Linked DNA regions of Homo sapiens. The protein of the gene in region 1 purifies or fractionates together with the protein of each later gene. This does not show direct contact. Each region holds a gene or a part of one and is shown in the gene's direction. Other genes may lie near its edges. The genes, in order: DHRS4L2 and PREPL.

Region 1 (3,823 bases):
TTAGGGCCTTTTTCTGATTAGGCTTTGGCTTAAGGGAATGTTGTGGCTAGTTTGATCTTCTGTCCAGAACATAAGAACTTTCTCTCCATATTAACAATAAACCTCTTTTGCTTTCTTATCATTTATATGTTCAGAGAAGTAGCACTTTTAATTTCCTTCAAGAATTTTTCCTTTGCATTCACAATTTGGCTAACTGGTGCACATGGTCTAACTTTCAGCCTGCCTCAGCTTTCAACATGCCTTCCTCACTAAGCTTAATTGTTTCTAGCTTTTGATTTAAAGTGAAAGATGTGTGACTCTTCCTTTTGCTTAAACACTTACAAGCCATTGTAGGGTTAATAGTTGGCCTAATTTCAATGTAAATGTGTCTCAGGGAATATGGAGGTCCACAGAGAGGGAGAGAGATGAGAGAAGGGCAGAGCAGTCAGAACACACAACATTTTTCAATTAAGTTGACCTTCTTTTCTGGGTGTGGTTTGTGGTACCCCAAAACAATTATAATAAAACCATGAAAGATCACTCATCACAGATCACCGTAACAGATATAATAATAATGGAAAGGTCTGAAATATTCCAAGAATTACCAAAATGTGACCCAGAGACAAAGTGAGCACATGCAATTGGAAAAATGGCTCGAATTAATGCAGGGTTGCCACGAAACTCCAATTTGTAAAAAAAAAAAAAAAAAAAAAAAAAAAAAACAATATCTGCAAAGCATAAGAAAATATGTGTCTATAACTTTTCTTTTAATTTGTATATTTTTTAAACTATCACAGTATGTCAAATCCAAACATAATGGCTGATCCTTGATTGAACTCTGGACTTTAAAAAACACACACACACATTTGGGGGATAATTGAGGCCAATATGTTAGATAAAATTATCATCATTGTCAAACTCTTGGTTGTGATAACAGATTATGGTTGTGTAAAAGAAAATCCTTACTCTTTGGAAATGTATGCTAAGTATTTGGGGATAGAACATTGTACTATCTGCAACTGAGTTTACTTATTTTATTTTAGGTTATTTATTTATTTTTGTGATGGAGCCTCACTCTGTTACCCAGGCTGGAGTGCAGTGGTGCTATCTCAGCTCACTGCAACCTCCACCTCCCGGGTTCAAGCTATTCTGCTGTCTCATCCTCCTGAGTAGCTTGGATTACAAACACATGCCACCACGTCTGGCTAATTTTTGTATTTTTAGTACAGACGAGGTTTGCCATGTTGCCCAGGCTGTTCTCGAACTCCTGACCTAAAAGTGATCCACCCATCTTGGCCTCCCGAAGTGCAGGGATTGCAGGCATGAGCCACCATGCCCAGCCCTGAGTTTTTTTTTTTTTAATTTACATTTTTTTATTTTTGTTCTTTGTAATTTTTGATTTTATTATATAAAATCTTTCAGAAAACTTGCAACTGAGTTTCAATGGTTCATTTAAAAAACTGTACAGATCTACAGAGAGGACAAATAGGACAAAATGTGAACAATTGGTGACTCTAAGTGAAGGATATCTAGACATTCATTGTACTTCTATCTCCAATTTTTCTGTAAGATTGAAATATTTTAATATAAGCAGTTGTCTAGAACAGTGTAAACAGGGTCATACATTTGTTTTAGATTATGGATGTGGGGATTCTGATTGTAGCCTGTCCCCCAGCTTCCCCAGAAGGTGACTCCTCATGATCCCACTTTCTAACCATGCCTAGCCAGACAGTCCTTCCTAGAGGGCCAAGAACATCTCACTCCCTAAGCCCAGAAGCCAGAGAAGTGCTAGAACAACCCCACATATCCAAGGTCAGGCCACATTTTCCCTGAGAAGCATGGCCTACTCTAGGGCAGGTCCAGGAGGCTGACAATTCCAGGCTCTACCTACTTGGAAGAAACAGAGAAAACACAGCTCAAATCCAAAGGCCCCTTCTGGCCCAAATCATACTTGGCTGATTATGAAACAAGATGAACCAGGCTCCATTTTTGCTCACCTGAACCTAATGTATCATTATCTAGCTGAGCAGCTGGTGAGAGCTACTTCTCCCTGAACCTCAGTTCCTTCATGTGTAAGATGCAGGTATATCATCCTAAGATCTTCGTCAGCTCTGACAAACATCCTAGGAACCCACTCTAACTCCTCATTTTTTCATGCCTCCTCCAGTGCTCTTCACTCATGCTGTTTCCCCTTCTTCTCTTGGCTTCAGACTCTGGACATTAATGTGAAGGCCCCAGCCCTGATGACAAAGGCAGTGGTGCCAGAAATGGAGAAACGAGGGTACAGAGAGTGAGAGAGAGCCTGGGTGAGAGGGGACCCCACACAGGCTGAGGGCAGTGGTCCACACTGGGAAGACGGTCAGCTCTCTTCTTTTTCCAGAGGCGGCTCAGTGGTGATCGTGTCTTCCATAGCAGCCTTCAGTCCATCTCCTGTAAGAACCCTTTTGTCTACCTCTTCCATCCCACCCTCCACTCCACATCTTTCCACCCCTCCTATTACCCAAAGAAGTTTGTGTCCCCTTGTAGAATCACACCACCAAGTCCCTGCCCACAAAATAGATGCCTTGCCTCCACAAACCATAACCTAGGGGAGGTTTAGCCACAAGACAGTTTCCTAACTCTGCCCCTCCCTTACAGGAGATCCCTACTGAGCACTGCCCTCTATGTCTAGTTATTAGAACCAAGAATGACCTGGAAACTATGAGTCTAACACATTCTCTTCTTTCTCCAGGGCTTCAGTCCTTACAATGTCAGTAAAACAGCCTTGCTGGGCCTCAACAATACCCTGGCCATAGAGCTGGCCCCAAGGAACATTAGGGTGAACTGCCTGCACCTGGACTTATCAAGACTAGCTTCAGCAGGATGGTGAGGAAGGGGAGCTTTGCATTTGACTGGGACCCCTTGAAAGGCATCCATCTTCTTGGACAGGGAAGCCCACTACCTGAGTCCTGAGCTCTCAGCCACTCCATTCTCCTTCCCTGGACTTTCCCATATTCCCTCTCTGTACCACCTGCCCTATACAAGCCACACTCTTATCACACCTTTTCTGAGGTATAGGCTGGAGACTGAGGTATTCAGACTGTACTCACACTGTTTCCTCCCTCCTTACATGGATGAGAATTGGAGAGACGCAGCAAAATGCATCACTAGAACCTGAAACAAATGAAACAGATGAGGGCAGTGGGGAGAGCTGGGAGCTAGAAAAAAATAGGAAGTGAAAGAGGGAAGTCTCTCACCCCATCCCTCCTCTCAGTTACCATGAGGATGGGCAGTTTCTTCCCTTTCCATTCTTCACTTTCCTCTTCTTTTTTTTTTTTTTTTCTTTTTTAATTATTATTATTATTATACTTTAAGTTTTAGGGTACATGTGCACATTGTGCAGGTTAGTTACATATGTATACATGTGCCATGCTGGTGCGCTGCACCCACTAACGTGTCATCTAGCATTAGATATATCTCCCAATGCTATCCCTCCCCACTCCCCCGACCCCACCACAGTCCCCAGAGTGTGATATTCCCCTTCCTGTGTCCATGTGATCTCATTGTTCAATTCCCACCTATGAGTGAGAATATGTGGTGTTTGGTTTTTTGTTCTTGCGATAGTTTACTGAGAATGATGGTTTCCAATTTCATCCATGTCCCTACAAAGGACATGAACTCATCATTTTTTATGGCTGCATAGTATTCCATGGTGTATATGTGCCACATTTTCTTAATCCAGTCTATCATTGTTGGACATTTGGGTTGGTTCCAAGTCTTTGCTATTGTGAATAATGCCGCAATAAACATACGTGTGCATGTGTCTTTATAGCAGCATGATTTATAGTCATTTGGGTATATACCC
Region 2 (3,823 bases), on another chromosome or scaffold:
ATCATATATCAGATAATTTCACATGTGCTGACACAATGAATTACAACACAAGCCTTTTATTCTTAGGAATTTTTTTCTTTAATTCATTTATTTTTCTCTGACAATCTTTAAGTAAATATTAATATTTTTATATTACAAAAGCAATACATGCTTGTTGAACAGATGCAAAAATACAGAACAAATCTTAAATGACTACTTCTCAGTACCATTTGCTTGCTGCACCTCTTAGAAATAATCATTGTTACCCACTTAGTGTATTATCTTTTAGATAGGTTTTATTTGGTTTTACAAACATGGAATTAGACTAGTCTATCAAAATGTTGCAATTATTGGACCCGAGATGGAAAGAACAGTTAAGCACCATGTTCTTGGAGAGCCAAGAGGGGAGAAGGGAAGCAGCTGCTGAATGGAAGCGCTATACCTTTCCACAGGCATTTTAGTACTGCTGGCAAACCCAGATCCAGCCCATCACAGGAGTAGCTACTGTTTTACCTCTTCCTTTCAAAACTTTTCAACAAGCAACTTTTTCTGATTGTATAATTGAAGTTGGGGAAGAGTTGGGAAGTGAAAAGACCAAGAGTGTTTTATAGAAATTAATCTACATCAAGTTTTATAAAAGTGAATCTTACTAAAAGTGAAAGTTAACAATGTCATAACAACTTGGGTATTTTAAAGAAGAATGAGAGGAGAATTTCCTCCTTATTTGATTACATTTTGCTGTCTCCAGTTATTGCCCCAAAGTGAAGTTTTCAAAATGAGAATGAAAATATGAAGAGTGACTTGGATGTATTATTTATTTTCTTTATGTAAACGGTGCTATTTCATTAGTTTAAGCAGGGTGAAAACCAATTTCTTTATCTTTTTTGTGTGAAAGGTAGATCAGAATTAGTTCTTTTGTCTGTTCAGAGACTGCCTAGTTTCAATCAACTGGAACTGATGAGTTTGAGCTACATTGGGGGATGGTTACATAACCTACAAGTAACTTAGTAACCTTACAAATAATTTAACTTACTTTAACCCTACAAAGAATTTTACCGAAAAATTTTAAGACCACTTTAAATTTTTTTTAATAAAGTTAAATGGGCCTTTGAAGAGGATTGTGGTAGTTATCAGTAACATCAGTAAGATTTCAGGTCTTAATGGTTGAGAATTCCGACTACAGAGGATATAGAAAATTGAGCTGGTAAGACTTTAGTCAGCATATTTGTAGATACTCAAAAGTGAAAAATGCCAATATCTAGCTCTTAGGCATAGGAAGAGTGCTATACTAGGACTTCTAACCTTGGTAAGTATTTTGGTTTCATCTGAAAATTTAAAATTATAGTAGGTAGTGAAGAACTCTTTAAAATTACATTATTGTCATGAAAAGCTGCATTTAATAAAATGTTTTCAGGCCAGTCTTGCTGCTCTTTTCTGGTTAATACTGTAGGACAGCAAGGTAGCTGAAACCAAAAGCCATGATTTATTTTTAGAGACCATAATTCTTTTTCTTAAACAAATTTGTGCTCAACATCAGTAGGTAGCACACAAGTGGGGACAGTGCACCTCAATGTATTTTAAATTGGGATAAAACAGTTATTATAAAAGACTCTTCTTTACATACATAGTAATTCTTCATTTCTAGGATGGAAAATTAGTGCCAATGACTGTTTTCCACAAAACTGACTCTGAGGACTTGCAGAAGAAACCTCTCTTGGTACATGTATATGGAGCTTATGGAATGGATTTGAAAATGAATTTCAGGCCTGAGAGGCGGGTCCTGGTGGATGATGGATGGATATTAGCATACTGCCATGTTCGGTGAGTCAGTATATTTTACCTGGCATGTAAGTGCTAGACCATTGTGAGAGATGTCAAGAATAACAATATATATCAGGGAACAAAAGCTTATTTTTTTCATTCTTATTATTCAATTTTTGTATTCCTAAACCAGCACTGGTGAAACTTGATTCTTTAACAGATTAGTTGATCCAAAAAGCAAAAGGATAGGTTTTTAGGATTTTTGCATAGAGGTACCAGACTCTGTACTTATTTAGTAATATTATTATTTCCTTTCAGTTCTCCTGAATTCAGGTTTAAGTAGCCTCTGAATCTGAACTGTTTTCCATTTAACTTCCATTTTATTTCAGCTGTTTTCAAGACACAAATATTATTTTGTATTTCTGCTTAAAATTCTTCTCCACCTCCCCATCTCTAGAACACAGTCCAGATTCCCCAGTATAATACTCCTAATGGTCTGATGGATCTCTGTAGCGGCATTTAGCATCAGACCCTTTTTTTTTTTTTTTTTTTTTTTTTGTTTGAGACAGTTTTGCTTTGTCGCCCAGGCTGGAGTGCAGTGGCACAATCTCGGCTCACTGCAACCTCTGCCTCCCAGGTTCAAGTGATTCTCATGCTTCAGGCTCCTGAGTAGCTGGGACTACAGGCGCACACCACCACACTGTCTGAATTTTTTTTTTTTTTTTTTTGAGATAGAATCTTGCTCTGTCGCCCAGGCTGGAGTGTGCAGTGGCATGATCTTGGCCAGGGTTCAAGCGATTCTCCTGCCTCAGCCTCCTGAGTAGCTGGGATTACAGGTGCCTGCCATAACTCCTGACTAATTTTTGAAATTTTTGTAGCGATGGGGTTTCACCATGTTGGCCAGGCTGGTCTCGAACTCCTGACCTCAAGTGATCCGCCCGCCTCAGCCTCCCAAAGTGCTGGGATTACAGGCATGAGCCACCGTACCAGCCCGATTTTTTTGTATTTTAGTAGAGACAGGGTTTTCCAATGTTGCCCAGGCTGGTCTCGAACTCCTGAGCTCAAGCAGTCCGCCCGCCTCAGCCTTCCAAAATCATGTCCTTTTATTTTTTTTATTTTGTTTTGTATTTTTTTGAGATGGAGTCTCACTCTGTCTCCCAGGCTAGAGTGCAGTGGCGCAATCTCCGCTCACTGCAACCTCCGCCTCCCAGGTTCAAGTAATTCTCTTGCCTCAGCCTCCCGAGTAGTTGGGCTTATAGGCACGCACCACCACACCTGGCTAATTTTTTCTATTTTTAGGAGAGACGGGGGTTTCACCATGTTGGCCAGTCTGGTCTCAAACTCCTGACCTCAAGTGACCTGCTCACCTCAGCCTACCAAAATGCTGAGATGACAGGCTTGAGGCACTGTGTCCAGCCCCCAAAGTCATGTCTTTTAAATGACATGCTCTGTCACCTCCTTGCCCTTATACATGCTGTGTCGTATCTGTGTCTTAATGCCTTTTCTTTGCCCTCTGGAAACTCAAATTTTTCCTTCACAACTCAGTTTAGGCATCATCTCCTTAAAAGCATTTGTGTTCCTGACTCGTGTATATACCCCTCACCTGGCAGATGGATGTTCTTTCCTCTGCTCCTGTAATACCTTAAATACACTTGTATTGTAGCAATGACACCACATTGCTGGGTAAGTCGTTGTTTTCTTACCCCACAAAATTACTGTCTTCTCCACGGTAGGGGATTTTCGTTTGTTTCTACTTTTAAGGTCTGTACTTAATCCCTGATAAATGGGCAGGCACTCAAAATATATTCGTTGAATCAATTCTGGATTGTCTATATCAGGAGTTGGCAAACCTTTTTCTCTAAAGAGCTACATAGTCACATTTTAAGCTTTGCAGGCCGCGTACAGTTTCTGTTGCACATTCCTTGTTTTCACTCAACCTTTAAAAAGCAAAAACCAGTCTTAGCTCCAGGGCCACACAAAAAACAGGCCTCCAGGTGTAGTTCGCTGACCCCAGCCTACAGTATTAACTTTTTTTTTCCACTAAAACTTTTTTGCCCTTCAATTTCAGAGGTGGTGGTGAGTT

The links.
Region 2: the proteins of DHRS4L2 (region 1) and PREPL purify together in Homo sapiens (affinity purification with mass spectrometry; one large-scale study listed by BioGRID and IntAct). This does not show direct contact.

What each region holds. Positions count from the first base shown.
Region 1 is NC_000014.9:23,998,674-24,002,496, forward strand, and holds part of DHRS4L2 (dehydrogenase/reductase SDR family member 4-like 2 isoform 1 precursor), read left to right. Parts: intron 1-2,189; coding exon 2,190-2,260; intron 2,261-2,359; coding exon 2,360-2,411; intron 2,412-2,710; coding exon 2,711-2,844; intron 2,845-3,823.
Region 2 is NC_000002.12:44,326,914-44,330,736, reverse strand, and holds part of PREPL (prolyl endopeptidase-like), read left to right. Parts: intron 1-1,624; coding exon 1,625-1,800; intron 1,801-3,808; coding exon 3,809-3,823. UniProt on the Homo sapiens protein: Serine peptidase whose precise substrate specificity remains unclear. Does not cleave peptides after a arginine or lysine residue. Regulates trans-Golgi network morphology and sorting by regulating the membrane binding of the AP-1 complex.